Linked DNA regions of Homo sapiens: regions 1, 2, 3, 5 and 6 are each linked to region 4. Evidence: fine-mapped expression QTL. A gene starts in region 4. Each other region holds a variant in brackets. All regions are shown on one strand. Distances are between the middles of the regions.

The links. PIP is the estimated chance that this variant, and not a neighbour inherited with it, causes the effect.
Region 1: its variant is fine-mapped to the expression of SUSD1 in whole blood (TOPMed, PIP above 0.99).
Region 2: its variant is fine-mapped to the expression of SUSD1 in whole blood (TOPMed, PIP 0.98).
Region 3: its variant is fine-mapped to the expression of SUSD1 in whole blood (TOPMed, PIP above 0.99).
Region 5: its variant is fine-mapped to the expression of SUSD1 in cerebellar hemisphere (GTEx, PIP above 0.99).
Region 6: its variant is fine-mapped to the expression of SUSD1 in whole blood (TOPMed, PIP above 0.99).

Annotation. Positions count from the first base shown.
Region 1 is chr9:112,036,703-112,041,861 of GRCh38, forward strand. SUSD1 (sushi domain containing 1) reads right to left here. Exons shown (of 17, transcript NM_022486.5): 17 at 4,081-4,790. The coding sequence ends at 4,790. LINC02977 (long intergenic non-protein coding RNA 2977) reads right to left here and starts at 3,722. Exons shown (of 3, transcript NR_186812.1): 1 at 1,477-3,722. RefSeq lists enhancers at 4,330-4,969, 4,365-5,159, 4,970-5,159. The variant TAAA/T (reference allele first, on the strand shown) is at 2,810.
Region 2 is chr9:112,077,100-112,082,258 of GRCh38, forward strand. SUSD1 (sushi domain containing 1) reads right to left here. Exons shown (of 17, transcript NM_022486.5): 11 at 2,975-3,066; 12 at 1,439-1,625. Among named protein-coding and RNA genes, the nearest start is that of LINC02977, 39 kb to the left of the region's middle. RefSeq lists an enhancer at 1-91. The variant G/A (reference allele first, on the strand shown) is at 2,653.
Region 3 is chr9:112,049,313-112,054,471 of GRCh38, forward strand. SUSD1 (sushi domain containing 1) reads right to left here. Exons shown (of 17, transcript NM_022486.5): 15 at 3,087-3,126. Among named protein-coding and RNA genes, the nearest start is that of LINC02977, 11 kb to the left of the region's middle. The variant A/G (reference allele first, on the strand shown) is at 2,824.
Region 4 is chr9:112,172,517-112,177,675 of GRCh38, forward strand. SUSD1 (sushi domain containing 1) reads right to left here and starts at 2,781. Exons shown (of 17, transcript NM_022486.5): 1 at 2,617-2,781. The coding sequence starts at 2,719. It also overlaps the pseudogene RPL29P20. RefSeq lists a silencer at 2,240-2,899.
Region 5 is chr9:112,114,072-112,119,230 of GRCh38, forward strand. The region is part of intron 6 of SUSD1 (sushi domain containing 1); the gene reads right to left. Among named protein-coding and RNA genes, the nearest start is that of SUSD1, 59 kb to the right of the region's middle. The variant A/G (reference allele first, on the strand shown) is at 2,440.
Region 6 is chr9:112,144,017-112,149,175 of GRCh38, forward strand. All of the region lies in intron 3 of SUSD1 (sushi domain containing 1), which reads right to left. Among named protein-coding and RNA genes, the nearest start is that of SUSD1, 29 kb to the right of the region's middle. RefSeq lists an enhancer at 312-1,511. The variant GA/G (reference allele first, on the strand shown) is at 2,164.

The DNA of each region.
Region 1 (5,159 bases), 140 kb before region 4:
TTTTTTGTAAAGATTGTGTGTCGCCATGTTGCCCAGGCTAGTCTCGAACTCCTGACCTCAAGTGATCCTCCCACCTCAGCCTCCCACAGTGCTGGGATTACAGGGGTGAACCACCGCTCCTGGTCTCAATGACTATTAATAGGACAACTAGCCAACCATTTAGCAACGATTTTTATTTAAAAAGATACCTTCCCCTGCCTCACTCCCTATCCTAAAATAAATTATAGATGGATTAAAAATTTTTAATGTTTAAAAAAATGCTAGATTATATTTAGTACCTTGAGATTAGAAGGTCCAACATAAGGAAAAAGACTGATAAATTTGACTATACAAATTTAAAATTTTTGTGTGGCAAAATATAATACAAACAAGATTGAAAAATTATGAACTCGAAAAATTGTTTACAAAACATATGACAGGAATTAAAATGACTACAACATAAAGAGCTTTTTCAAATCAAAGACAAATAGGCCAAGTACTGAGAAAAAGACAACTCACAAAGACAGAATTAACAACTGGCCAATCAACAAGCAAAATAATCAGAGAGACACAGACAAAACATTGAAACATCCTTCTTCACATACCAGATTAATCAAGATTAACAATACAACAGCACTCAGTGGCGCTGAGGCTTTCTGCTGGTAAGAGTGTAAATTTTTGTATAAGTTTTTGCATAAAACTCTTCCAGCAATCTGCACTGTAAAATGTACATAGTTTCCATTCCAACAATTTTACTTCCAGGAATGTGGCCTAAGTGATAATTGCATACCTTCATACTGACTTTTATAAGGACAATAAACATCTGAAAATATTCTAAATGCACAACAGAGTATTGGTTAAATGAATTATGGTACAAACTTATAATGCAGTCATGAGTGACATGAAAAATGTGGCCTGGAAATGATGACTGAAAGAATCATGTTACAAAACCACACACAAAATTTGACTCCATTTAGGTAATCCTGAGTTGAGTTTGACTCTATTTTGGTAACCCTGAGTTGAGCCCAAAAAGTATGGATCTAGATGTGCATGCCCCACCCCCCACCCACCACACACACACACATACTCCACCACCACCACCCAAAGGATTCACTCTCTCTGAAACAAGAGCACACACTGCCTTTTAAATTGACTTGCTTCATGGACTCACCCTCCCACAAACTGGGGCACAGAAAAGGCCACATCCTTCCTCCCCAGAAGCAGGCACTGCTTTGTTGGTTCAGTCTAACCAACAAAGGATGTGGTAGGTAAAAGGTTCTTACAACGCTATTTGATTGACTTCTATGAGACCATTGAGTTCCTCTTAGAAGAAAAGAATGGGAAAACAAAAGGTTTAGAAAATCAGAAAATGTGAGATTAGCAATGAAAAGGGAACACTGAATGTTCTTTTTTATTTCCTTTAAAATCAATTTAAATATTAATTTTATTCCAAGCTAAAGTGGAATTTCAAGATAATCACTTCTGCTCTGGTCTTACCTTACGTGCCCCACTGCAATTTCAGGTCTCGAGTCAGAGAACAGACTATTTCCTCTTCCCCTTAATTAACCTCCATCCATTTGCTTGATTGTTTGTGGCTCCTTCTATAAGGGATGGGTGGAGGTGCCTTACAGTGAAAAGACAGGTATACATACACACACACTGTATATATATAGATTGGAAATTCAAAGGCATGACATTCCTGGGAACCAAAAAGCCTGTCCAAAGATTAGCTCCATAGCTAGCTCAAGGGCTTTCAAATGCCAGAAAAGAGAACTAGGGCAGCCAGAAGACTTGGCCCCACAATTCAAGTATTAACACTGAGCAATTCTGTGTTATAATTTGCAGCAGTTAGAGGAAATCCCAAAGTCCACGTTTTTGTTATTTCAGTAAATTTTTTTGGATCTCACTCTGTCACCCAGGCGGGAGTGCAGTGGTGTCACCACGGCTCACTGCAACCTCAGACTCCTGGGCTCAAGCGATCCTCCTGCCTCAGCCTCCTGAGTAGCTGGGACTACAAGTGCACGCCACCATGCCCGGCTAATTTTTAAAACTTTTTTTGCAGACATGGGGTCTCGCTATGTTGCCAGGGCTGGTCTTGAAGACCTCCCAAAGTTTAGTAATCTTATATGAACTGCTTTTACTTTTCTGCATTGTACCCAGAAGGTGATGTTTTACTTAATATTTAGTCAGTTATTTTAACCAGAAACTTTTAATACTAAGCAAGGGGGATTTCTTCCTTTCTATCACAATTATACTACATTCCATGTGGACAACTGTATCTCTGGCAGTTAATTCTAGAGGTGGAAATTAGGGAAGGGGGTAGTATGGAAGCATACAGCATTTACAAAACTGGCAAAAAATAAAATAAGTCAAGGGGAGGCTCAGATTCTTTCTTTGGACAAAGGTGGGCTTTGAGGAAAGATCCTCACTCATCAGAGGCCGAGCCCTACACTAACCACAGTAATTTGTATTGATACCCAATTTAGTTCAGGAGCTATAAAAATGTATGTTTGCGGCCAGGCGTGGTGGTTCATGCCTGTAATACCAGCACTTTGGGAGGCCAAGGCGGGTGGATCACGAGGTCATGAGATCGAGACCATCCTGGCTAACACGGTGAAACCCCATCTCTACTAAAAATACAAAAAATTAGCTGGGCACGGTGGCGGATACCTGTAGTCCCAGCTACTCCAGAGGCTGAGGCAGGAGAATGGCGTGAACCCGGGAGGCGGAGCTTGCAGTGAGTCGAGATAGCGCCACTACACTCCCGCCTGGGAGAAAGAGTGAGACTCCGTCTCAAAAAAAAAAAAAAGTATGTTTGCATTATTGCACA[TAAA/T]AATTAAAAATTGAGAGCTATTTGTATTCATCTATTGAGAGAAACGGTCTCTGGGGGTTAGGATGGGGACCTGTCCCCATTATAGACCCGTTCTGGTCTATAATTTACCTAAGACGAGAGCAGAAAGGGTTTTAAATGCTGATCCTAAGTTGTCGTCGGAGGGCAGTACCCCAGAGGACAGGGGAATCATTCCTAACACTGGCAGGGGCCAGAGGCTGACAGCTGGCATTGAACACCTGAATGTCAGGATATTACTCGCCTCTCTCTAATTCTTCCCAATAGAGCGGATACACTCTGGACTCCCTGGGGTGGAGCAGCTACATGGGCAGTTTGTACTTGTTCCTCTTGTCTCTTCATCTGCCCATAAGCCCAAGGCACTCAGAGTCTTCCCTCACTGACACCCAGCAAGCCGGTGAACACACCGGCCCACTGCATTGGGAAGCCCTTTCCTTTTGCTAAGGACTGCATTCGTCTATGCTGCATCTTGAGGCTGTGCAGTATCACCTCCCCTCCTCCATGGTTTTTCTTCTCTAGGCCTAGCAGGCAAGGGAGAAGGAGAGATGCCAGAAGCCTCTGTCTTTCCTTCCCCATTCGTTTCTTACTGAGTCTTGGAGTTAAATTGTTAGTTAGTGCCGGGCGTGTGGCTCACACCTGTAATCTCAGCACTTTGGGAGGCAAAGGTGGGCGAATCAACTGAGATCAGGAGTTTGAAACCACCCTGGCCAACATGGTGAAACTCCATCTCTACTAAACATACAAAAATTACCTGGGCGTGGTGGGGGGGCCCTGTGGTCCCAGCTACATGGGAGGCTGAGGCAGGAGAATCACTTGAACCCGGGAGGCAGAGGTTGCAGTGAGCTGAGATCACGCCACTTCCCTCCAGCCTGGGCAACAGAGTGGGAGTCCATCTCAAAAAAAAAAAAAAAAAAAAGAGGAAAGAATGCCAATTCATGATTTAAAAGTAAAATCAAATAGACTCCAGCTGTCAACTTAGCATATTCACAGTAGGTCCAGCACCGCTTATATCTAATGTTTCATAGTTCATAATGGAGTAACATTCATAGTTACTGAAGTTTAGATAAAAGAAGTGTCACCCTCTATGGCAACCCCTCCCCTGAAACACACATGGACTCTAGTCTAGCCATGGGCTCAATACTGTTTTAAGCATTGCTACTACACTACCACCAAATCTCAGTTTCTAACAGGGGGCAAAGAGCATTTTTAGAAGACGCTTAGTAACAGAAAAATTAACCAAGGGAAGAACAATCTTAATTACGGGATATTTTTACTGGAATGTAGACATTACTTTTGAATATATAGGACAATAGAAATTGCATCAAAGCAATGCTGCCTAACAGACACAGCAGGAAACTTATTGGCATGGCCAGGCTAGTATATTTTCTCATTAGTATATCAACTAATTATAGGAAAAGTACTGTTTCTAAAGTGCTTGAAACATTTGCCTACGTCACTGTTCTCTTTTTCAATGACCTCCTTCATAAAGTCAAACTCTAGCCCAAACTTAAGCCCATCTCACTGCATATTGTAAAGAATGGATTCTGAATGAATTAACAGAAATGCTTTTATATAGGAGGTTGCAGAGATTCTCTTGCAGTCAATGTCTAGAGGAGCTGACCCTCAGGCATCACTCAGAGGAAGTCCCAGCCAAGATTCACAGATCTGTATGTAGCCTTCGGTCAATATCACAGTGTACATCAGGAGTCTCAAGTTCATTGCACAGAACTGGTCCTGTAGCAGGGAAGACTCAGAATTCCTGAGTTTTCTCCTTATGGTGACTCCTCAGGGATAGCCACCATCTTAAATCCAGGAATGGGGCCCAGCTGGGAATGGAGAAAGTTGCAGGCCCACATGCTCCCTGGACGGAAGTCACACGGAGCCTCTGTGCGGGCACCTGAGAAGCTGCCAGAACACCTGCCCAGCAGCAGTGCATCCTCCCCACTCAGTGTCCATCTGCCATCTAGACATGGAGGAGGAAAAGAAAAGAGACAAATATGAACACACTTTGGTTTTCCCACTGTGCATCTCTATGCACAGCTCACACGCACACCCATGGGAGGAGGCGAGGGGGAGCAGCATGGAAGCTCAGCCACCCCTCTGTGTGTGGCCAGGGCAGCCATCACTGGTCCTGCTCTTTTCCTGGGAAGGCATCCCCCATGCTACCTGGAGGTACAGGGTTAGTCATGCCTTTCACCGCTGAGTGTGCTCTGCTGAGCCAAGGACAACCTCCACCCACACTCCCTTTGACTCCCCTCATCCCCAGCTGTTCTTCGTGACTCTGACCCATCCTCCCCTCCATTCCAGTCATTTCTCAAAAATGACACCCTCA
Region 2 (5,159 bases), 95 kb before region 4:
ATTTTTTCTTTCTTTTCGTTCACAAGGAGGATGTTGCAACATGCTAGGCAATGCTGGGGATAATTCTGTATTGAGGGGAAGTGCTGATCAGGGAAGAAGGGATGGGATCTAAGGCACAAGTTGAGGGGATGGCAGCCTTACACACGAGCAGGGACAGGAAGGGAGGCAGAACAGGATGCAAGGAGGAACGGCAGGGCTGAGCGTGGGAAGTCCTCACCTGACTACTTCTAATTTCTCAGTGAAATAAGAATCAAGAAGCTAATATGCTTAGTATTTGCTCAGAGCATGTGTGAAGTGGGGGTCACAGATGTGAAGAGGGAGGAGAAAATGAGTGGAAAGTGAATTTACTGGGGCCCTATAGCCGGAGGACTACAATCATTGTCCCCTGATAGTAATCTACTTTTTTTTTTTTTTTTTTTTTTTTTTTTTTGAGATGGAGTTTTGCTCTTGTTGCCTAGGCTGGAGTGCGATCTCAGATCAACACAACCTCCACCTCCTGGGTTCAAGCAATTCTCCTGCCTCAGCCTCCCGAGTAGCTGGGATTACAGGCACCTGACACCACACCCAGCTAATTTTTGTATTCTTAGTAGAGGTGGGGTTTCACCACGTCAGCCAGGCTGATCTCGAAATGATCCTCACATGATCAACCCTCCTCAGCTTCCCAAAGTGCTGGGATTACAGGTTTGAGCCACTGTGCCTAGCTAGTAATCTACTCTTAAAGTACTTGCAACAGGATGCCAACTAAATATTCCTGAGAAAGAAAGAGCCACAAGCATTTTTTGTTTAAGTATAAAGTATTTTAAATGCTTTAAATATCCAGAAGCTATACAACCAACACCATGGATGGACACACTACCCACATTTCATCAATGCTGACATTTTGTTTCAGGTATCTTCCCCCTCCCCCTCCCCACAGACCTCCCCTGTGGTTATTAGGTATCTTTTTAAAAATAAAACATAACAGGCTGGGCGCAGTGGCTTACACCTGTAATCCCAGCACTTTGGGAGGCCGAGGCAGGTGGATTGCTTGAGCCCAGGAGTTCGAGACCAGCCTAGGCAACATAGTGAAACCCCGTCTCTACAAAAAATACAGAAATTAGCCAGGCATGGTGGCCTATACAACTATAATCCCAGCTACTCAAGAGGCTGAGGCAGGAGGATCATTTAAGCCCAGGTCAAGGCTGCAGTGAGCCATGATCGTGCCTCTGCACTCCAGCCTGGGCGACAGAGCAAGACCCTGCCTCAAAAAAAGAAAAAAGAATGAAACATAACAGTCACAGAGGCGCCTTAAGGCACCTCTCCAATTCCATGTCCTTCCTCCTCTCCCTGTTAAAGTTCATTATATAATGATAAAAAGCAACAGTGTTCCTCTTTATCAGGACCTATGAACAATTCTGTGGTAACTTTGTTAATCCAAATGCTGTTATTCAAGATTTACCTGTTATCTGGGTTGTCAGGGAGATGACCACAGGAAGTTCCGAAGACAGAGCCCGGAGACTGACATTGTAGTTGGTACCCGGACGTAGGTCCAAGCACACCTCGGGATCTCGGCTGCTGCTACTGATATTAAAGGTCATTTCCTGGGCAAATTCCTTCTGATACCATCTCTGGCCCCAAATGTGGAACTGAAACATAAAAAAGCTCACTGGGTGAATGGTTGGCCTAAAAGGCTTTAGATGCCTTGAAACCTCCCCTTTTCCTTTTTCTTTCTCTTTTTTTTTTTTTTTTTTTGAGATGGGGGCCTCACTCTGTCACCCATGCTGGAGTGCAGTGGCATGACCTCGGCTCACTGCAGCCTCAACCTCCCAGGCTCAAGTGATCCTCCCTCCTCAGCCTCCCAAGTAACTGGGACCACAGATGCATGCCACCACATCCAGCTAATTTTTGTATTTTTTGTAGAGACAGGGTTTCGCCATGTTGCCCAGGCTGGTCTCAAACTCCTGAGCTCTAGTGATCTGCCACCTCGAATCCCAAAGTGCTGAGATCACAGGCGTGAGCCACCGCGCCCAGCCCCTTCCCGTTTTCATGAGCTTTCTTCCTCTCTCTCTCTCTCTGGACTCTAATGTTTCTTCAAAAGGTGAAATGCAGCAGTAAGCAAATATTAGAGTTGCAATACTATAAATATTGTACTTAAAATATTATTTGTATAATAAATATATTTTTAAATAAAAACACACAAAAGGCTAAGGTCCCAATACTGGCAGCTTTCTCCTTATTCTCACACATACAGTGCACATACACAACAAGAAAGTCTATTGGCAAAACTGCAGGAGCAAGGACAAGAACATTTTCCTAGAAAGAATATTAGGAATCCAAACTAAGCAGGACCTGAATTAGAATACTCGTAGCTGGTCTGCTAGAACCTGAGAACAGTTTTTCTCCTCTTCCTGCCAGCTTCTGGTGACCCTACCCTTTCCTTAACCACCCTGACACTTCGGCCAAGAGACACCCTTTTGTTCTTACTTAATTTCTTCCAGTAGAAGTTCATCCCAGTCTTCCCCCTCCTTTTTTTTTTTTTTTCGAGACAAAGTTTTGCTCTGTCACCCAGGCTGGGGTTCAGTGGCGCGATCTTGGTTAACAGAAACCTCCACCTCTTGGGTTCAAGCTATTCTCCTGCCTCAGCCTCCTGAATAGCTGGGATTACAGCTATGC[G/A]CCACTACGCTCGGCTAATTTTTATATTTTTAGCAGAGACAGAGTTTCACCATGTTGACCAGGCTGGTCTTAACTCCTGGCCTCAAGTGATCCGCCCGCCTCAGCCTCTCAAAGTACTGGGATTACAAATGTGAGCCACTGTGCCCAGCCACTGTCTTTAAATACACAGAAGTGGCCATCTTCTTGCTTCTTGATGCAATTGTCACAGTAAATCGTCTACTGATAATGATAGTTATAGATGTAGATTTTTAGGTTTGTGGGTATTTTTAAGCCTCCCACATAAGACAACCATCTATAAATACAGTAACTTTCAGTCACTTACTAAATACATCTCCTCCATATCAGCTGTCTTGATGCTTCTCCATCTCAAGCAGGTTTCATTAAATCCTGAAATGTTACTGATGGTCTGTTTTACTGTAGTGGAAAAGAAATGAGAAATCAATTTACACTCTATAGAAAAAATGCTACCTTTTAATTGAGCCATTTTTCCAAGGATAAGTGTTAGCATGAGTTCAACAGTATTTTAATTTAGAAATTAGTGGTAGCAGTCTCAAAGTAATACCACTTTTATATCTAGGTAAACTCAGTCTTGATGAAAGATTTCAGATCCAAAGATACCTAATCGGAGGACCCCTCTTAAGAATTATTTGAGTGGGCCGGGCACAGTGGCTCACGCCTGTAACCCCAGCACTTTGGGAGGCCAAGGCAGGCAGATCACTTGAGGCCACGAGTTCGAGACCAGCCTGGCCAACATAGCGAAACCCCATCTCTACTAAAAATACAAAAACTAGCTGGGCGTGGTGGTGTGTGCCTGTAGTCCCAGCTACTTGGGAGGCTGAAGCAGGAGAATCGCTTGAACCTGGGAGGCGGGGGTTGCAGTCAGCAGAGATTGTGCCACTGCACTCCAGCCTGGGTGACAGAGTGAGACTCTGTCTCAAGAAAAAAAAAAAAAAGAAAAGAAAAAGGAAAAAAATTATTTGAGTCTATTTACTGCAAGCTTCCTTGGCTTACTAAGCTAAAATTACAACTATTTGTCCTGGACCTTGTATACCCTCATTTATACAAATAAGTGTCGGTTCGAAATTCTGAGCTAAGAGCAACATTTCAGCAGAGAATTGCTCCTTGAGGAACTGAAAAAAGTGCTTTGAAGCAATCAGGTTTTTCATGAGGAAAAGAATAGGAGGTGGCGGGATTCTCTTGGTTTGGGCTTCCTTATCTCTTGTGAGCAAAGAAATATTTCTTGTCCTCTGCTCAGTTTCATAGTAATCAATCTAAAAGACAGTTCAGATCTGATACAGTTTAATGTGGAGGTACACCCATCCAAGTAGTCAAGAAAGACTATTTATTCAAAACCCTGACATCAGAGGTTACTTCCTTCAATAAGGATCTCTGTCCCTAAAGTGGAAATAATAGAGCAGACTTGCTAAGAAGTTTCACAGGAACACTGTGATGATTAACGAGTGATAAAGACAACTCCCAAATTACGTGAAAAAAGGAAGGTCTCATGAAAGGTAAGGCTGTATTTTGTAACTCCCTGGCCTGACAGGTTCCTACAAATGAAGCCAAGTTGGTAGACACGACTCCTCTCTATGGATTGGGCAGCTTGGCACAAAGAAAACCTGTACAAGTCACAAGCTGTACCTCAAATGTTGCAACACGGAGCAGGTAGGGAACAGGAGGAAAAGATGAACAGGTGGTAAGGAACAGGAGGAGTACAGATGATTCCAGGTTAATGCAGACCCACAGCTGGGTAGAGACAGGTTTGGAGATTAGTAGTAGTGGTCCAAAGTTACACTTCTGAAACTTTCAAAATACAAATAACTCCAATAGTATTTAAACAGTTCTAGACTATACAAAAAGGTGGAAGGGTCCCCAAATCATTTAATATGACTAAATAATCCACAATGCCCGACCTGTACAAGGATGGCACAGCCAATCACTAAACATCCTATGCCAAATTTGCTTGTTGATATAAATACAAAAATCCAAAATAAAATATTAGCACAAAGAAGTCAGTAGTACATTCAAAGAACAATACACTACGACCAAAGATTTATTCCCAGAATACAGAGAGTATCATTATTGGAAAAGCTATTAATAGGTTAAAAGAGAGAAACCATGTGGTTACTTTTATAAATGGAACTGTTAATACATTTAATATACTTTGTTAACTTGAAATCTTAGTGAGCTAGGACTTCATTTGACAGAAACGCCTTAGTTTAATAGGGTTTATAAGAAACCACCACACTCAGTGGTAAAGCAATTAAGCAATTTCTAGTAAAGTTAAGAACAATACAAGGATGTCTGGTCTTGTAGCTATTACTGAGCCTTATTCAAGAGATTCTAGACAATGCAGAAAAAGGCAAGAAAAAAAAATGAGCTATAAATGCCAGAAAGAGCAACAAATGATGCAACTGCCAGTAAATCTAAGAGACTCAACTAATCAAACATGAAACTGTTTGAAAATAACAGAAAGGCAACATACAAAAACTGATCATTTTCTATCT
Region 3 (5,159 bases), 120 kb before region 4:
ATCAAATGACCTTGCTTTGTGACTCAAGAAATCACAGACTCATAATACTCTGTGGCTGGAAAGCATCTCAGAGATCCCAGAGAGAGGGCGACTGAGAACTGGCCAAGTTAAATACTATTTCAAAGACACTTGGCTGATTAGTAGCAGAAGACTCAGGCAAGTAAGCCCAGGCCTCTGCATCTTCCATCAAACCGACTGCTGGTTTCCTGATCATCTTTACAAAGCTCTTCTAGGGGCAATATGCAAAAGGTAAATAGCATAATTTGTCACTGGGCAAAGGCCAGAATGGGGCTGAGCCTTGGCACGAGTGAACTGGCACGATTTCAGGACTAATTTAGATCTCGGTTCTCTGCAAATTACTTTCTGAAATGGCAGTCTCCAAACTTTTTTGAAAAAGTAGACTGCCCAAGATGGGTGCACAACACAGGTAAATGTTATACATAAAAAAGTATTGCTAGAATTGCCTTCAGAATTTCCACAGAACAGTGTTTTTCCTATTATCTTCCAGAGATTTCCAGTGGTTTAATTTCAAAGGCTCAAACTCTCCTTCAATATTGGTTCTCAAGCTGAGGGGAAACCAGAGCACTGCCAAAGCCACTTAGATATTTTCAAAGCAAAATCCTCCCTGTTAATTTAATCATAGCAGAATGACTGCAGCCAGCTCTTTGGCGATTTCTTCTACCCAGTTTGAATGTCTTCCAATCATAGCAAACAGCTGCTGAGTAGAGTGGATTCTGGAAGCTATTATTTTTGTGTCTGGAAGCTTTGTCATCTTAATTATTCTGATAAAAGCATCTCTTTTCCTCGTGAGAACGCCATGCCCAATCCTAGAGCTTCAGGGGATGGACTGGCAAAAAAAAATTTATGAATGTTGGAATGTGTGGCCTTTATTAAAGTCCTACAAGTAAAGGGACTTGGCCCATCTGCACACAGAAACAGGACAGCACCCATCTTTGTCAAGAGGGGCCCTCACTGCCTGGTCATCAGCAATCCAAGATGGCTGACAGTCAGGTAACCCGCCTTGCACCCTGCTGAAAAGCCAAGTCCTCTACCCTTGTTGCAGTTGGTTTGAGCAGAGGTAAAAAGATGAAAATAAGATCAGGAGAGAAGCAGACAAATGGAGGAAGCCTAATTCCCCAGGCCCCTCCCAGATATTTCCTGCACAGTATTCTCTACTGACAGGATAAAAAATTCCCCATTAAAAAGTGCTATCCAGTGGAATCCTTAGGGAAGCAAGTTTATGCTGGCACTTCCTCACCATGCCAGTTGATTGTTTTATGCTGCTCTGAGGCGGGGAGAGGAGGTAAAGGGTTAAACTGATACTGTGGGCTAAGGGCAGAACTTGACAGCCTGTTGCTAGGACCCACAAACCACACGGAAAAGGTCCAGATTCCAAGGTCATAAACTCAACAAGATTTCTGGTATTAGCTACAAACTAATGGAATTCCTGGGAATCAAATCCACTGGCTGGCTGCCTGTTGGTTTTAAAGAAATGTACTGTACTGCCAGGGAAATCCCGAGCCTGGAAAACAAAGACCTGTGATTGCTCAAACCCTAAGGCAATTTCCCCGCCTGGATAACTCTTCCAAGGCAAAGGTTTAAGCTATACAGCGCTCAGCAGAAATGTTCCCACTGCATCTCTAAGGAAAGGCTTTGGAGGAAATGGACAAGGGGTCCCATCAGGCAGACCCAAACTGACCACCCAAGTGACCCATTCTGCTGCCAGGGCAGGGGATGCTTGCTTGTCCTGCCCAGCAAGAGGTGATCACTGCTACAGGGCCCCCTGACCACTGTACATTGCTTTATCTTTTCCTCCTTTCTAAATGAGCGTATTTATTGTGCTATTCAGTTTTCCCTCTCATATTATGTATTATGGTTTGAGATTGGTTAAATTTGCCATTTAGTCATAGATTACTTAAATAGAGCACAAGAAACACATCTGGACTTGACCAAGAGGAAGATGCTATCCCCAGGATTCCTGGTCTTGGAGCTGGATGCAGTAACGGACCCAGCTTTCAGTTGTCTTCCACTAGGGTTCCATGTGGGATCATGCATAGGATAGTTCCATTTTGTTAAGGGAAGAAGTTTTTCTTTTCTTTTTTTTTTTTTTTTTTTTTTTTTGTTGTTGTTGTTGTTGAGATGGAGTTTTGCCTTTGTTGCCCAGGCTGGAGTACAATGGCGCGATCTCGGCTCACCGCAACCTTTGCCTCCCGGGTTCAAGTGATTCTCCTGCCTCAGCCTCCCGAGTAGCTGAGATTACAGGCATGTGCCACCATGCCTGGCTAATTTTGTATTTTTAGTAGAGACAGGGTTTCTCCATGTTGGTCAGGCTGGTCTCGAACTCCCAACCTCAGGTGATTCACCTGCCTCGGCCTCCCAAAGTGCTGGGATTACAGTTTTTCTTAATATTATATGTGTATGTGCACAAGCTACACAGCCGAATGGTAGTGGACTGTTGTAGCTCTTGTATTGGCTTTTCGGCATCTTTTCCTGTGCCCCATTTCTTGATAGGGATTTTGTCTCCCTTTCATTGCAAACCTAGTGGACCTATTGTTCACACTGCTCTGCCTCCAACCAGCCATGAGGAGACATAAAACCCAAGGGAGGCCAATCATCCTAGCCCATCTCCTAGTAACAGTGATTCATCCAATGGGCAGTCACTTAACCTAGCAGGAAAGAATCTTTCCCCGAATTGAAAAGCTATGTTTTCCCAGTGAAATCGGTAAGCTGCGGGAGCTTGCCATCACTCCCTCTCACATGTCCTACAGTAGAAGAAAACGAAGCCAAGTGACTCTTAGAAACAGAGAACTGAAACAAGAGAAA[A/G]ATAGAAAGTCCCACTCACGGTGTTGAGTCCCCAGTCCCAGTTCCTGGAGCCTTCTTGGTGGGGTAGCTCTTTGTATAATTCCATAAGCTCCCATCCACTCACCCTCCTCCCATTTTTTTTCAGCTATGAAGCTCTTTGCTTAAAGTAGTATGAATTGGGTTCTGGTCACCAGTGACAATTATATAAACAGATCTCATCAATATGAACTTGATGCTGCAGAAAAGAAATAAGGACAGCATTCATAGGCAGAAAATAATTTTACCTTTCACCTGAGCCCAAACTGCACAGGAGTGTCTTCTCACCTATAAAGGAAAACATAGCAATGCATTTAGCTAGGTGGCACACAGTGTCAGTTTAAATATAGTTTGGAGGCTGAAGCCCTCTGAGTTTCAGCTTTTTCAATCTCTTAATCTGAACTAGACCTTTAAAGTCCAATCTAGCTCTAATATCTTGTGATATCACTAAGTGTTCAAGGGACCGGCGTGGGTTGCATGGACAGAAGTGACCCTACAGATCACTTCTATAGGTTTCCAACAGGTCTTGGAAAGCATATATGATAGGCCAACAACAGGAGTGACAAAAAGGACCATTCCCCTGACCAGCTCTGAGCAACTGGCATGGACCGCCTAGAGAATTATGCTGAAAAGGATTCTGAGGTCACACGTTCAGAAGGTTCAGCAAGAAGTAGTGATGCATGTTAGAGGCAAAGCTATGAGAAGTCCCAGTATATAATACTTCATCTATCTAGATGTCACTTAGCAACGTCAGTTACCCAAAATGTGTCCATGAACCGGGAAGAAAGCAACAGGAACATATATGAAAGCTCATCCATAGTAGAAGAAATCTATAGATTCAGTGGAATGAATATCTCTTCCCCCCTGTCATTATGATATGCTTATTTACCTGTTACAAATGCTGGGGACTTGCTCTATATAAGACTTGAAAATATTCCCCAGAGGAAGCTGCACGGTGAGGGTTAGAGGAGGATCCTTCCAATGTCATTAGGAGAGTCTCTTTCAAATGACAGCCTTGGGCATTCTGGTTTGGATTTTATTAATTTTTTTTTTAATTTAAGCTTAAAAATTCTGAGAAAAGCTGCTGGGCACAGTGGCTCACACCTGTAATCCCAGCACTTTGGGAGGCTGAGATGAGCAGATCACCTGAGGTCAGGGGTTCGAGACCAGCCTGGCCAACATGGTGAAACCCCATCCCTACTGAAAATATAAAAATTAGCTAGGTGTGGTGGTGGGCGCCTGTACTCCCAGCTACTTGGAAGGCTGAGGCAGGAGAATCACTTGAACCCAGGAGGCGGAGGTGCAGTGAGCCAAGACCACACCATTGCACTCCAGCCTGGGCAACAGAATGAGACTTCGTCTCAAAAAAAAAAAAAAAAAAAAAAAAATCTGAGAAAAGCTTAAAATAGCCATAAGCGTTTGAATGTGACTAACATTTGCTTTGATGCTAAGTGCAGATATTAGAAATGGAAGGTAATGTGCAAGAATAACCAGTAAAGAACATATTTCAAGACACTGGAGAATGGAAGGGACTTCAAATAGCAAGGCCATTTGGGGGAATGGAGTATATCAAAGGAGAGAAACTGGCAGGGGCCAGGTGAAGAAGGGAGCTTATTAAACTGAAATGCCTGGATCATACTTGCATTTTATAAAACTCATGCTGGCAGTGGTATGAAGCAAGGAGACGGGTAGAATAAGAGACAGAAAGATGTGGTAGAAAAGTGATGTTCAGGCAAGAGATGACAAAGTCTGAGCAGTGCAGACAAAGGAGAGGAAAGAATGATTTTAAACAGAATTAAGTTGGTAGAATTGACATGATTTGCTGATGATCTGGATAAGAAGGTAAGAAAGAAGGAAGAGACAAGAACTATTTACAGGTTTCTGTCTTAGCAATGGGAGGCATGGCAATGCTATTTACTGGGACAGATACACAAAGGGAAAAACAAAATGGGGCATTGGAAGACTCACACTCCCTGATTTCAAAATTTACTACAAAACTACAGTAAACAAAACAGTGTGGTAGTGACATAAAGACAGACATATAGGCCAATGGAACAGCATAGAGAACCTAGAAATAAACCCTTGCATATATGTCAAATAATAGTTAACAAGAGTGCCAAGACCATTCAATAGGGAAAAGACAGTTTTTTCAGGCTGGGCACACTGGCTCACACCTGTAATCCCAGTACTTTGGGAGGCTGAGATAGGAGAAGCGCTTAAGCCCAGGAGTTTGAGACCAGCCTGGGCAACACAGGGAGACCCCATCTCTACAAATAATTTTTAAATATTAGCCAGGCATGGTGGTGCACAGCTGTAGTCCC
Region 4 (5,159 bases):
AAGCAACCATCAAGTCTATTGATTTCATCTCTCCAAATCCATAACAGCACCTCAAATTCAGGATGTCCAAAACAACTAATCATCTTTCTTTCCAAATCTTTCTCCTTCCGTAGAAACATATACCAAGTCACCCAGCCCCCAAGCCTTAGTGTCATCTTTCCCCTTCTGTTCCCTTGCACCTTCATATCTGTTATTAAATCCTTCCTTCCAGTCCATTTCCACCTTACTGTCTACATTCAGTCCGTTTCTGCTGTCATTACTGTGGGCCCAGTCCTCAGAACTTCCAGGCCAGCTATTGCAACAACTTCCTCAATGGGCTTGTCCAAGCCTCCAGTCTTTCCCTACATTGTCGACTGTCAGGAAACCTGCCCTTCATAAAACCAGGTTCTCCAAGGTTGAACATGAAGGGAGAATGTCTAGATAAGGAGAGGGGGCTCAACCAGGAAGCCTTGACTTCTGTTTCCCCAAATTCACCCCCAAAACCTTTAGTTACAGATGACCTTACGTAGCTACTAGCTGTGTTCAGCCATCTTAGTCTAACAATTCAATGGGATCATACTGGACAGTTTCCTACCTTAGAGATATCACAGGAAGATCCTGAAATAGACGCCAAGCATCTGCAAGTCCTATGCGCACTGTTCTCGGAGATAGAGCCAAGGAAGGAATCTTAACCAGGGCACCTAATATTACAAAAATGGCCACTCCAGAAGATCAAGCCATTGAAATACCCATCAGGCATGGTAAAAGTCCCAAGCCAAAGAGAATGGGGGTGGGGGCGGCAGGCAGGATTCTCAACCACAAGTCTCCTTGTATGTCATCACATGGAAATTTCCTTCCACTTCAGGATCAGCGTTTGGTTTTAGTAAGGAAGATGGGGGTTCCTTAGACCCTCTTTCCCCCGCCTCAAGTTTACTTATACAAATAGCAAAGGAGGACATCAGCCCCATGCAGATGGCAGTCCAAGGGGGACAATCCTTCTGTCCTCACGTTGGCAGACACAGATCTCTACTCTGAAGGCTTTGTAGGGGCCTGAGCTCCTTCGGGAGTCTGAGCTGGAACTGAAGCTGGAGCTGCAGCCTGAGCCTTGGTTTGATCCTTGACCTTGGTCTTTGGCTGGCACAGCCTGAGCCCCTTGGCAATGCGGGCACGAGCACGTTTCCCAAGCTTGAGGTGGGCAACGTAGGCAAGAGCTGACACCCTTTGGAATCTTGGGCTTAACCTCCTTGGGGTTTATGAGGGCAAGGCCTCAGCACGTGCACTCATGGCCTTGGCACTGTCGCCCTGCATCTTCTTTAGGCCCCTCTTATTGTGCTTCTTGGCAAACCGCATGTTTGTCAGGAACTTGGGGTCCACCCCTTTAAAAGATTCGTATCTTTGTGATCCGGGTTTCATGATGCCGTTTCTGTGCCATTTTCGGGACTGGTTGTGTGTGGTGTGGTGCTTGGATTTGGCCATGTCTGCACTGTAACCTGTGGCTCCCGAAGCGCCTAGAACTGGCTAGACCCACTTTTCTTGTCACTCCCTGAGACGGCTTCCAGTGGCTTCCAGGCACAGCTAAGTCCAAAGGCCTAGGTCTGCCAATCAAGGCACTCTGCCCTCTGCCTCTGGTGCCTCCGTGTGCTTCCTTCCCTTCTCCCCCGGGCCTGAATTCTGAAGGAATTCATTCATTCTACACTCATTTGTGGAGAGGTGACAGTGCCTTCTGCTATGAGCTGGGATACCTTTTTCACATTTTCCCATATCCAAATATGACCAATCATTGATGGCCCAGCTCAAGGGTCACCACCGATTCCCCTTTCCCTGCCCTCACCACCCACACCTTCTCATGGCACCCATGCCATTCTGCCTTGTATTACAGTTATGTGGATGAATGTCACCTCCCCTGCGTGTCTGAATCCTCTGTGTAATTCCTACTCAGCTCAACACTGCATTTTGCAGAGGAGGAAAAACAACTCCCTCGATTGCTTGGAAATAGAACATTTGCTGGTCTAAATCCTCCAGACAATGAGCTCCACGAGGGCCCGCACTGCCCGCCCTCATCGCGCACAGGGAAGCTGTTCAAGGGCCATCTGTTGAATGAATGAGTGAATTAATGGCTTCACTCCTGTACTCTTCCTTACGCGTCTTTCTCACCATATTTAGCATCCGGCTCTCTAACAACGTGAAAAAATTAAAAGTGGTAAGAAAATTGCTTCGGGTCAAAAATGTGTCATGCAAAAGCCACCGCAGAGCCGGAAGCGTGACAGCGCCGCAGAACGCCCTGGCCTCCCCGCCCTTCCCCGGGCGCCGCCCTGCCCGGGTCCGCGCTCGCGCCCAGCCCCCACCCCGCCTCCTGGGCAGTGGAGGTCCCTGGGGGCCCGGCCAGGCCGCCTTAAAACCGGCGTCCCCCGGCGTCGCGGGGTCGGGCGGGGGCAGGGAAGCCCGGCGGGGAGCCCCCCGCTTCTCTGAGCTCCTCCTTGCCGATCTCCAACGGCCGGCGCGGGCCCCACCTGCGCCCCACGCCTCGGCACCGCGCCGGCCCGGCCCAGGGGCGGGGAAGCGTCCGTGCGCCCAGAGTCCTCGAGGCCCAGCCGGGGGCCCCGCCGGCCGCCCGTGCCCGTCCCAGCCCGCACTCACCGTCGGGGCCCGGCGCTCCCGCGGCGCCGCGGGCCAGGCCGAGCAGCAGCAACAGCGGCAGCAGGCGGCGAGACGGGCCCGCATCCCAGGGCCCCCGGCCCATGCCGCCGCCGGTCCCTCCCGGCGCGCCCGCGCCTCCTCCCGGGGCCCTCAGGGTGCAGAGATAAGGCTACAGGCGCCGCGGGGAGGGGACCAGCCGGCGGCTTCCGGCGCCGCCGAGGGAAGCGGGGGGCGCTGCGGGGTCCCCGGGAGGCCGCAGAGCGCGGGTCCTTCCTCTTGTCGGGGCCTGGGCTTAGGACACGCCCGTTCCGCGTCCGTCTCTGGCTCCGCACTTGCTGCCCTCTCGCCGCTCACATTCGCAAAGGGGGACAGACACTCATCGGATAATGACACAGCTGGACGCAGAGCCCCGGAGAGTGCTGGGGAGGAAATGTTGCGGAGGATTCAAGCCACTCGAGGGCTCAGGGAGGCACCCCCGGGGAGAGGGGTGAGGGGAGCAAGGGGCGGAAATCTTCCAGGACGTGAAAGGGAGCTGGATGAGGTGACCACAGCGCAAGGCCCAGATGAGAGGTCGGAAGACGCAGACCCAGGCCACCCAGGGGCGACACACTTGACCAGGTGACACCTGGTCACCGGGAGTGAGAGAGAGTAGGGCTGTGATGGAGGGAGGGGCTGGCATCAGTCCCCGCTGCTCTGAGGACACCCGGCTTGGGACGCGCTGATGCCAGCCCCTACCTCCATCACAGCCGTACTCATCCCAAGGGAAGGAGTAAACCAAGACCCAAGGATGAGAAGGACGTTGGGGAGGAATCTAAGCGGGAGTTTGTTGTAGAAATGGGGAATGGGGACCTAGAGTGAGAGCAGAGGGTTGGAGAGGGGCGTTGAGCTGCAGAGGGAAGTTAGCCCTCCTAACCCAAGTGATGGAGGTCGCCGGGAAGCTGTCACAGTTTCAAGCAGTGAATGACTTCATCACTGACACATCTCTGTCTGTTCTGTGGAATTGGGATTGGGGTTGGGTTGGGATGTGGAAGGCAAAGAGTCCAGCCCGGAGTTGCTGCAGGAATCAGGCAATAGAAGACATGTCCTGGCCCGGTGCGGTGGCTCACGCCTGTAATCCCAACACTTTGGGAGGTCGAGGCGGGTGGATCACTTGAGGTCAGGAGCTCGATACCAGCCTGGCCAACTTGGTGAAACCCCGTCTCTACTGAAAAAAAAAAAATTAGGTGGGCACGGTGGCAGGCACCTGTAATCCCAGCTACTCGGAAAGCTGAGGCGAGAGAATTGCTTGAACCCAGGAGGCGGAGGTTGAAGTGAGCCGAGCTCGCACCACTGCACTCCGGACTGGGCGACAGAGTGAGACTCCATAGACAGATAGATAGATAGATAGATAGATAGATAGATAGATAGATAGATAGATAGATAGACAGACAGACAGACAGACAGACAGATAGAGATAGAGATAGATGTGTCCTGCAGCTGGGCATTGACAAATGAGTGTGAAGAGGGCAGTGTGTAAGAGTGGAATCCACTAGGTTTTATGACTAGTCGGGGAGAAGGAAATAAATAAGATCCGGTTTGAAGGCTTTGAGCTTGTGATGTCTGTGGGAGCGCAGCCGAGAGCAGGCACCCCACTACTTCACCCCATATCCTCACTTGTTTACTCTCTGCCATGAGCCTGCCGTAAATCTCACCACTTTCAAACACACCCATATAAGGGCTAAAGTTGTGGAGTCTTAACAAGTAGTTAAAAATCAACTTCAAGCTGGGTGAAGTGTGGCATGCCTGTAGTCCCAGCTACTAAAGAGGCTGAAGGGCAGGAGAATTGCTTGAGTCCAGGAATTCAAGGCCCATGTGGGCAATACAGTGAGACCCCCTCTCTTAAAAAAACAAACAAACAAAAACAAACAAAGAAAAAGCTCATCTTCCTAGGCTCTTTTTTCCTCTTGGGGAGACAAGGTCTTGTTCTGTTGCCCAAGCTGGAGTGCACAGCTCACCACAGCCTCAACCTCTTGGGCTCAGGTAGTCCACTAGCCTCAACCTCCCAGTAGCTGGGACTACAGGGGCGCAGCATCATGCCTGGCTCATTTAAAAAATTTTTTTTGTAGAGACAAGATCTGGCTATGTTGCCCAGGCTGGTCTCCAACTCCTTGGCTCAAGCAATCCTCCCACCTTGGTCTCCCAAAGTGCTGGGATTACAGGAGTGAGCCACTGCATCTGGCCTCACAAGCTCTTTTCTTAGCAGGCTTTCTTGAAAATTATTTTTGATCAACAAAGACAGGCACCTGTTTGGGGAGCAATAGATGGACGGTGTGTCTCTATTATTTAGACAAATTTTTTAAGTTCAGCTCTCCATAAACTTCAAACTTGGAAATCATGTCATTGTTTCAACAAATATACCATTCACTTAAGATTTTTAACCAGCCTATACCACTTCATCCCCACTGTGGCCCCTTGCAAAATAAATAAACTTAAGTATATATGTATATACATTTTTTATTGATAATGTCAGGAAAATTTGTCCAAAACTTGGAAATGGGCAAAAG
Region 5 (5,159 bases), 58 kb before region 4:
AGGTCAGTGAGGTTGCGGGATACAAGGTCAATGTACAAAAATCTATTGTATTTCTATATACTAGCAATGAGCAGTCCAAAGATGAAATTAAGAAAACAATTTCATTTACAATACTATCAAAAACAAACAGGCCTGGTGCAATAGCTCACGCCTGTAATCACAGCACTTTGGGAGGCCAAGGCAGGTTGGTCACCTGAAGTCAGGAGTTCAAGACCAGCCTGGCTAACATGGCAAAACCCCGTCTCTACTAAAAATACAAAAATTAGCTGGGCATGGTGGTGCATGCCTGTAGTCCCAGCTACTTGGGAGGCTGAGGCAGGAGAATCACTTGAACCTGGGAGGCAGAGGTGGCAGTGAGCCAAGATCCTGCCACTGCACTCCAGCCTGGGTGACAGAGTGAGACTCCATCTCAAAAACAAAAACAAAAACAAACAAACAAAATTCCTGCAGACAGAAGCTATCATATAATTATTCCCAGAGAAAGTTGTCCTCATGTCACCAAAAAGGGATATTCCACAGCCCCAGCTCAAGCTTTCCCATTGAAGCAGACACCTCTTAAGAACTCCTCAGCCTCTCTCAGCTTCCCCTGCTCCTTGTCCCATCCCTGGATGGGTTTTGACAACATGACCAGGTCTTGCCTCCTATTCTGGGACTTCCCTGCTGCAGCACCCACACCCCAGCACATGCCATCTGGAAGTGCAGGGGAGTTAAAATCCTGTGGGGACAGGAGCTGGTAGAGAAATCCTTCCTCCTTTCTTTCCTCTGAAGGGCTGTCCAACAAAGACTTAGTTTCTTCAGCGTCTAAGGACACTGTCACACAGATGTGGTAATGCCCACCCTCTGTGGAGACCAGTACAATCAGGCATCATACGCTGACTCTCCTTCTTTCCCTGTTTTACTGCCCTTGTTTCCCACTCCTGGTGCCTGGGATTTGATTCTCTACTGCATAATAAATATAAACCCAGTGAAAGGCTCCCATCTAAGAAGAGTGAGAAAGCTATTTCTCCATGTCAGAAAATGACTCTCCACAACTCAGCTCCCGTTTCTCCCTTCTAGTAAATCTCTTCGCAGTCTCCAAGTGCAAAAGGAAGCCTGCACCTTAGGTACCTGTAGGGCCAATCCTATTCTCCTGTACTCAGAACCAATGCTAGCTTTGGATTGACCCAGATCTACTGACCTCTCTGCCCAAAGAAGAGTTTATATCTTTACTAAATCATCCCTTCAGCAGCAATGCCTAGATTCTGTGTCCCACATGACCTGGTCTTGGGTAAGCCCAAGTTATCTATTAGCAAGTGAAAATCAATGGAGGCAGAGAGGGAAAAATAGGCAAACTCCTGCCGAGATACCAGAAAGGCCACCTATGGCTGTCTGCAGCATTCCTGGATCTCTATATCAGTATTTCTCCCTAGAACACACACAATTTGAAATCAAAGAAATACTCCAATTGTGGGCCAAGTGGGTGCGGTGGCTCACGCCTGTAATCCTAGCACTTTGCGGGGCTGAGATGGGCATATCACTTGAGGTCAGGAGTTTGAGACCAGCCTGGGCAACATGGTGAAACCGCATCTCTACTAAAAATACAAAAAAATTAGCCAAGCGTGGTGGTACATACCTATAATTCCAGCTACTTGGGAGACTGAGGCACGAGAACTGCTTGAACCTGGGAGGCAGAGGTTGCAGTGAGCCAAGATTGTGCCACTGCACTGCAGCCTGGGCGGCAGAATGAGACTCCATTGCAAAAAAAAAAAAAAAGAAAAAAAAAAGAAAAGAAATACTCCAATTATGAGCATGGGTACCCTAAGAGACACAATGACCTTCAGTTCGCCCCCTTGGGTAGCATAAAGATGATGTTGGTACCAGTCTTTTATCAGCCTGAACAAGCCCCAGATATTTCTGGCCTCTACCCTCTTTGCTGCCCTTCAAAGCCCCAGAGCTCTTGGCATCTCTGCTCACTTACACATCCCTTTGATGCTAACTCACCACCTGGTCCAGAAAGAAAAGGCACCAGCCCAGCCCTCATCTTCTCTCTGAGTTGCCAGCAAAGCGAATTTCCTTTTTACTCTCAGTTCCTTTGTCATCGAAGCAGAGATTAGAAAGGAGTTTTCTTTCTTGTCCTTCCTTCTTGCTCATTCACTATGACAACTGTAAATGGCATCTCAAAGATGCCATCTGCCTCCAGCCTGTGCCATGCTCTCTGCACAGATGGGACCCAGATCCAATTATAGGGGTGTCAGATATTTCATCCCAGGGAGCAGTTTAACAAAGTTTGGTTGCTTTTCCCTCCAGGTGCCTACAAATTAGTTGGAAAGACTCCTTTATAAAAGAATCAGATATTCAACATCTACATTAATGCTGCCCTTTTAATGGAGACTATATGCCCTCATTCCAATAGTGCTGATAACTGAAAACATTTCTGGAAGTCCTCTTTGGAGCTGTCCC[A/G]GGGCTCTTTCATTCCCTGCTCACTACTAACTGAATGGCTATCAAATGCCAAGCATCCTGCCATGCCAGGCACTGGGCTGTGACGATGTTATCTGCTGACTATGTAGGGAAAAAGTACTCTTGAAAGTCATAGATCTGTGAATGTTAGTTGAAGGTATGGGTGCAGGTGAGATATGCAGGTAGGACAGAGACAGTGAATGGCCCAATGGCAGAACACTGGGAAACACTGAAACCCAGGGGGGAACCAGAGGAAAAAGGCAATGCAGAAGAGAGGCAGGAGGCTGGTAGAGTGACTGATGTCTAGGAAGGAAAGGAAGGACTTGAAAGAGTGTCTCTCAGCCTTCCAAGGCCAGGCACAGTGGCTGACACCTGTAATCTCAGCACTTTGAGAGGCCGAGGCAGACGGATTACTTGAGGCCAGGAGTTCAAGACCAGCCTGGCCAACATGGCAAAAACATGTCTCTACTAAAAATAGAGAAATTAGCCAGGTGTGGTGGTGCACACCTGTAATCCCAGCTACTCAAGAGGCCGAGGCACGAGAATCACTTGAACTTGGGAGGCGGAGGTTGCAGTGAGCTGAGATCGTGCCACTGCACTCCAGCCTGGGTGATACAACAAGACTCTGTCCCTAAAAAATAAAAATAAATTCTTTTAAGAAAATTATCAGCCTTCTTTCCCACCAGTCTCCCACAGCCTCCTCATCCCCTAGCCAAGAAGGGCCTGGAGCAGGTCAAGGCAGAGGGTGCAAACTCCATCTCCCTCTCTCCTCTCACATGGCTTTTCTCCCCTCATGGAGTGCCCACGGCATCAGGATTAGATCTGTGGTTTGACTTTGGGTAGAGGTGGGAAGAGCAGGCCCTCAGCCTGCCCAGTTGTAGAACACAGAGGCCTCTCTGGCTTAAAAGAAGGAGGCCCCCACAGTGTCCAGCTGAAGTCTCACTGGATTTGGGGAGAGAAAGTCTCAGTGAGTGATAAAGTAAGAGCCTTTGTTTTGCTTTACTCTATGTGTGTGTGTGTACACACAGGTACATATATATGTTATGTATATATAGATATAGATGTACATAATGTTATGTATTTTGGTATTTTGTTAGCATCTAGTATTTCTGTATGTGGTACTTAACACACTTGTAACTAAATACGTAAGTCATTATATAATGACCACCTCTCCTGAATGTAACTTTACGATGGCAAAGACCATGTTTCTCTCTCTATCCTCAGGCCCTAGCACAGTGCCTTAAATATAGATACTAAAAACTATGTATTATTTGGTTGAACTGGTTGAATGGATGGATAAAGGATCAACAATGCTAAATGTTGTGGAAAGGTTGAGAAGAATGACAGCTGAAACTGGAACATGAAATTGGCAGTTAGGTAGTCATCAGTCACCTTGGTGAGATGCTACAGTGAAGTGGGGGTGTTCGATGCCTGGTTTCCCCCCAGTAGGCTGAGAAGAGCATAGGAGGGGAGGGAATAAGACAGTGAGCCCAGACTACTCTTTCAGAAGTCCCACTGTGCAAGGACAGGGGCTGGTCTAGTGTACTCCCTTGGTTTCCAATTTTATATCCTTTTTCTTTATTTTTGGAAACAGCAAAAGGTCATAGAGAATAAATCCAGGTGACCCAAACAGATGGTCAAGCAAGCTCAGCATCATTTCTAGTCAAAACAGCATCTGATTTCAAAAGGAATGTAACTGATCTTCTAATACGGCTCATAAACTACCTCCAAAGGACATTATCAAATAGGATTCCAAGGCAAACACATGATGATAATGGCAGCACCACAGAAATCAGGGTATGGCTTCCCACAGTGCCTACTTGAATAAATGTATGTTTGGCTATAAAAGTTTTCATGTGTTTCCTTTCTTTCTTTGAAGTCTTAGATTCACATAAAATAAGTAGGAGTAGCATGGCTTAGAGTACGTTAGTGTAAAATATATTGCACACTTTGGGATGATTTTTGGTGGCACGCGAATACTTTTTTTCTTTTTTGGAGACGGAGTCTTGCGCTGTAGCCCAGGATGGAGTGCAGTGGCATGTTCTCAGCTGACTGCAACCTCCGCCTCCTGAGTTCAAGTGATCCTCCAGCCTCAGCCTCCCGAGTAGCTGGGACTACAGACGCGTGCCACCACACCCAGCTAATTTTTGTATCTTTAGTAGAGACGGGGTTTCACCATGTTGGCCAGGCTGGTCTCAAATTCCTGACCTCAGGTGATCCACCCTTCTCGGCCTCCCAAAGTGCTGGGATTACAGGCGTGAGCCACCGCGCCCAGCCAGGAATACATTTTTATCTGTTCGTTATGTATCAGTTTTTGTGTATATCAGAAAAATACACCTACTTCATCAAACTCATGAGATCACATATATTGTCCTTAATAAATTTGAATTATAAATTTAAGGTTAGGTTGTTTAAGGAAACACTCTAAGTAAATAATACTCTTATTATGGCAAACATTGTGTCAGGGTGGTATACAAATAATTCAAGCTTGGAAGACACTGATGTAGGAGAAAGAATGTGGTCTTTCTGGGCTTACAGGCCTCAGTTCAAATCCTGGCTCTACCATTTGCTAATTATTGAGTGACCATGTAAAAGTCACTTAACCTTTATGAGTCTCAGATTACTTATCTATGAAATGAAAATAACAAAGCTTACTTCAAAAGGGTTTTAAGAGGATGAAATGAAATCGAGCATTAAGGTCCCTAGCTGAGCCCTGGGTGTGT
Region 6 (5,159 bases), 28 kb before region 4:
ATCACTTGAGGTCAGGAGTTCGAGACCAGCCTGGCCAACATAGTGAAACCTCATCTCTAGTAAAAATACAAAAATTAGCCAGCCATGGTGGTACATGCCTGTAGTCCCAGCTATTCAGGAGGCTGAGGCAGGAGAATCACTTGAACCTAGGAGGCGGAGCTTGCAGTGAGCCGAGATCACGCCACTGCACTCAGCCTGGGTGACAGAGCAAGACCCCGTCTCAAAGAAAAAAAAAAAGAAAATCCAATCACTAAAAAATCCAATCACTATAAATATATCCAATCACTAAAAGAATCCAGTCACTATAAATATATCCAGTCACTAAAATATATCCAGTCACTATAAATATATCCAATCACTATAAATATATCCAATCACTATAAATATATCCAATCACTATAAATATACCCAATCATTATAACAAAAGAATGGTCCCAACCTCATACTAAAACATCTAAAGTAGGGCTTCAGATAGAAAACAATTTACAGGCCTGGCACGGTGGCTCATGTCTGTAATCCTGGCACTTTGGGAGGACTGCTTGAGTCCAGGAGTTTGAGACCAGCCTGGGAACGAAGTGAGAACCTGTCTTAAAATTAACTTAAAATATAAACAACATTTTTAATGTTTTAAATAAGGAAAACAATCTCCAGGAGAGTGAAAATGCCAGCCCATGAGTATAGGATGGTGTGGCAGGTAATAAGGTGGTAACTTAATTAGGAAAGGTCTTACTAATTTTATGAAAATGAGACAGCCTTAAAACAGCCTTCTGGAAGGACAGGACATGCCCTTTTGCAGATTTTTTTGCACCTGACTGAAGACTATCAGAGGCAGCAGGTATAGGGTAAAAACTGCCCAATAAGCCAGAGGCTGGAGAAGAAATCTCTCTTCCAGTTAGTAGTTTTTTCCCTCAGAACTGACTTTAAAACTTTAAGAATTCCATCAGCTGGGCATGCCTGGGCATGCCTATGGTCCCAGTTGCTCAAGAGGCTGAGGCAGGAGGATTGCTTTAAGTCCGGGAGTTCAAGGCCGGCCTGGGCAACACAGCAAGACCCTCATCTCTAAAAATAATAATAATACTATTTTCATCAGAGCCACATAGTTCAATTCCACTTGGAGAAAACAAAAAAGCACCCTAACTGAAATTCCTAGGACATTGGCATAAAAACATCAGGGATTGAGCAGAAGACAGGAAGCAGCATGATTGAAGAAAGTCTGTTTTTTAAAAAAAAAATTTCAAAAAGCTAGTAATACCATAATTTCCTTTTTTTTTTTTTTTTTTTGAGACAGAGTCTCACTCTGTTGCCCAGGCTGGAGTGCAATGGTGTGATCTTGGCTTATTGCAACCGCTGCCTCCTGACTTCAACTGATTCTCCTGCCTCAGCCTCCTGAGTAGCTGGGACTACAGGTGTGTACCACCACGCCGGCTAATTTTTGTGTGTCTTTTTGTAGAGACAGGGTTTCACCATGTTGGCCAGGCTGGTCTCGAACTCCCGACCTCAAATTGTCCACCCAGTTGGCTCCCAAAGTGCTGGGATTACAGGCATGAGCCAATGCACCTGGCTATAATTTCTTTTTCTTAAATGACATTTTAGCCCCCAAAAGATAAAAGAAAATTGCCTCAGAATCCTTTTGAACTTTTATATTCTTTATTCTTTTTCCTTTTGGGTCTTGGATCAATGAACGCCTCTCCACTCACACCAATTATTGTTTGGGAACCAGTAATTCTATTCAATTGCTGAAGGAGCCCATCCAAGTCAAACCACCCTCACACAAGAAGTGCCACAGAGCTTCTTCTCCTGGGTTGTGGCTCATGGTGGTTTCCATGATTCCCAGGAGTCATTCAGGGGGCAGTTCTAAGGGCCAGAACATCTGCCTGTTCTCCATGACTGGCTGGAATCATCTCACACTAGAACCCCAGCAATTCATTCCTCCTCTAACATTGGTGACATTCAGAGGCCTACCTGCAACCAGCTCCTGAGCTTGATGTTGACTCTGCAAAGCACAATAAACACCTGGATGCAGGATTCCTTGGAATCCAGGAACTAGGATTCACATCCTGTGGTTCCAGGCAAACAGTGACTAACTGCTGATACCCCAACACTTGCTAAGCTCTGCCCCAGCTAAAGCCCGCTGATGTTTCTCTGGCAACTGTGATTCTGAAA[GA/G]AACAGTATTATCAAGAAAAGCAATTCATCAGCTTTTACAAAGTGATAACTGGAGAACTCACAAGGAAAGGTCATGGGAATGGCTGCCAGTGGACATGGTCTTCATGGTGGGGGCATGAAAATGCTCCAAAATGAGACAGTGGTGATGCTAGCACAACTTTGTGAATATACTAAAAACCACTGAGTTGTATACATCAAAAGGGTGAATTTGATGGTATGTAAACTATAGCTCAATTTTTTACAAAAGAGAAGGTCATTCAATCATTGCAAGAATGGAATAAATAAAAGTAGAGCCTAGATCTGGATTTAGTTCCAGGCAGATTAGGTCTAGTTCGGCTGACACCTATTTGGCCCTTACATAAAATATTTTTTTCTCTTTCCTCTTCCCCTCTTCTTCCCTCCTCCTGTTCCCACCAATCTTCTCACTCTTCCTCCTCCTCATTCTTCTTCCTAACTTAAAAAAAAAAAAAATTAAGACAAAGTCTCGCTCTGTCACCCAGGCTGGAGTGCAATGGCACAACCTTGGCTCACTGCAGCCTCAAAGTCCTGGGCTCCAGCGATCCTCCCACCTCAGCCTTCCAAGTAGCTAGGACAACAGGCACAAGCCACCACATCCAGCTAATTTTCTTATTTTTTGTAAAGATGAAGTCTCATTATGTTGCCCAAGCTGGTCTTGAACTCCTGGTCTGAAGTGATCCTCCAGCCTTGGCCTCCCAAAGTCCTGGGGATACAGGCGTGAGTCACCATGCCCAGCCTTCTTCATAACTTTCAAAAGCTGAATTCATCTCTTGGAACTATAAACATACTGATAAATATACAGTTGTAAGTTTTCCCTGGCAAACTCCCACAGCCTAGAAAACACAATTTCAGGGATCATATTCTCCAGAAGATTCCCCTGATTCCTTCCTCACAGCCAAGATAAGTGACCCCTAGATTCCAGTAAATGCTGTTTGCTTACCTATGACTAACACTTTATACTGAAATTAGCTGTCTGCTCGTCACCCTTCCACTAGCACAGTCTTGTCATATAAGAAGTGCATGAAAGGCCAGGCGTGGTGGCTCACGTCTGTAATCCCAGCACTTTGGGAGGCCGAGGCAGGTGAATCAGCCGAGGTCAGGACTTCGAGACAAGCCTGGCCAACATGGTGAAACCCTGTCTCTACTAAAATACAAAAATTAGCTGGGCATGGTGGCGGGTGCCTGTAATCCCAGCTACTCAGGAGGCTGAGACAGGAGAAGCACAGGGGAATCGCTTGAACGCAGGAGGCAGAGGTTGCAGTGAGCCGTGATTGTGCCACTGCACTCCAGCCTGGGTCACAGTGGCTCACGCCTGTAATCCTAGCACTTTGGGAGGCCAAGGCAGGCAGATCACAATGTCAAGAGATCAAGACCATCCTGGCCAACATGGTGAAACCCCGTCTCTCCTAAAAGTACAAAAATTAGCCAGTCGTGGCAGTGCGCACCTGTAGTCCCAGCTACTCAGGAGGCTGAAGCAGGAGAATCGCTTGAACCCGTGAGGCAGAGCCTGCAGTGAGCCGAGATCATGCCACTGCACTCCAGCCTGGGCAACAGAGCGAGACTCCGTCTCAAAAAGAAAAGAAAAGAAAAAGTACATGAGAAATGTGTATTGAATAAACAAAACACTAGATCATCATCTTATATGCTTTTTTTTTAGTGTCTTTTCTTCTTAATATACAAAATTTAATACTGTAACATTGTACTTCTGCAACCATGCAGCCAGTAATTTGCTACCTAGAACAACAGGATATTATAAAATGTTTTCTCTGAAGGAATGTGTTCATTCGTGCCAAGAATAAATCAAATGTATCCTTTGAGAGATTCTGCCTTGGTACAGGTCAAGAGGGAGGATGAATCCGAGCATAAGAACCTACGGTTCCTGGTAGCTAAGAAGATAAAATATGTTCTCCTTTCATTTTATTTTTCCTGAAAACCTTTAAATATCACGAAGCTTTCCAGCAGAGTCATTAAGTCTATGCAAAAGCATCTTAGAACCAGGAGGCTTTTTCTGCCTTTCCTCTTCATTATTGTTCAAAGATTTTCCTAGAAAGCCAGAGAGCAACATTAAATAGCGTATGCTGTTTATAGAGTTCAGATAACAGAGGAGCCGCTAAAAATTAGGAGGGTTTGTCCCCACCCTGTATTCGACCAGCCTATGCTCAGAGACCCAGCCTACAAAGCTCCCATGCTCCCAAAACTCGCACTCCTCACTCAGCGCACACATGTGGGAGGCAAGCCCACATCTCTTAACAGGGACAACTCTGACCTCCTGTGAGCCAACAGCCGGGTGCCAGCCCCCAGATTAGTGTGCTCTGAGCTGAGGAGTGCCACTCACCCCAAGGACCCCCGACCTGTGGTTACAGGAACCTGCAGGAGGCACACCATCTCCAGAGAGTCCCTCCTCACTATTCATTATGAAAACGATCAGGCCAGGTGCAGTGGCTCATGACTAATCCCAGCACTTTGGGAGGCCGAGGCGGGCAGATCACTTGAGGCCAGGAGTTTGAGACCAGCCTGGCCAATGGGGCAAAACCGCATCTCTACCAAAAATACAAAAATTAGCTGAGCATGGTGGTGCGTGCCTGTAATCCCAGCTACTTAGGAAGCTGAGGCAGGAGAATCGCTTGAACCCAGGAGGCGGAGGTTACAGAGAGTCGAGATTGTGCCACTGCACTCCAGCCTGGGCAACAGAGTGAGACCCCCCCCTTAAAAAAAAAAAAGTTCAAACAAAACATTACAATGAAAGAAAAAGAATATTACAATGAACTCCCATAGACCCACATCCCCCCAAGATTCAATCGTTGTTTACATTTTGCCATTTAAAGTAGCTTACAGACTAAAGGAACACTATTATAGATACATCATCATAACACCCCTAGATACCTCAGCATGCATCTCCCAAAATAAGAATATTATCCTATATACCACAATACCATTATGCCATCTAACAAAACTAACATTAATTCCCTAATATTAA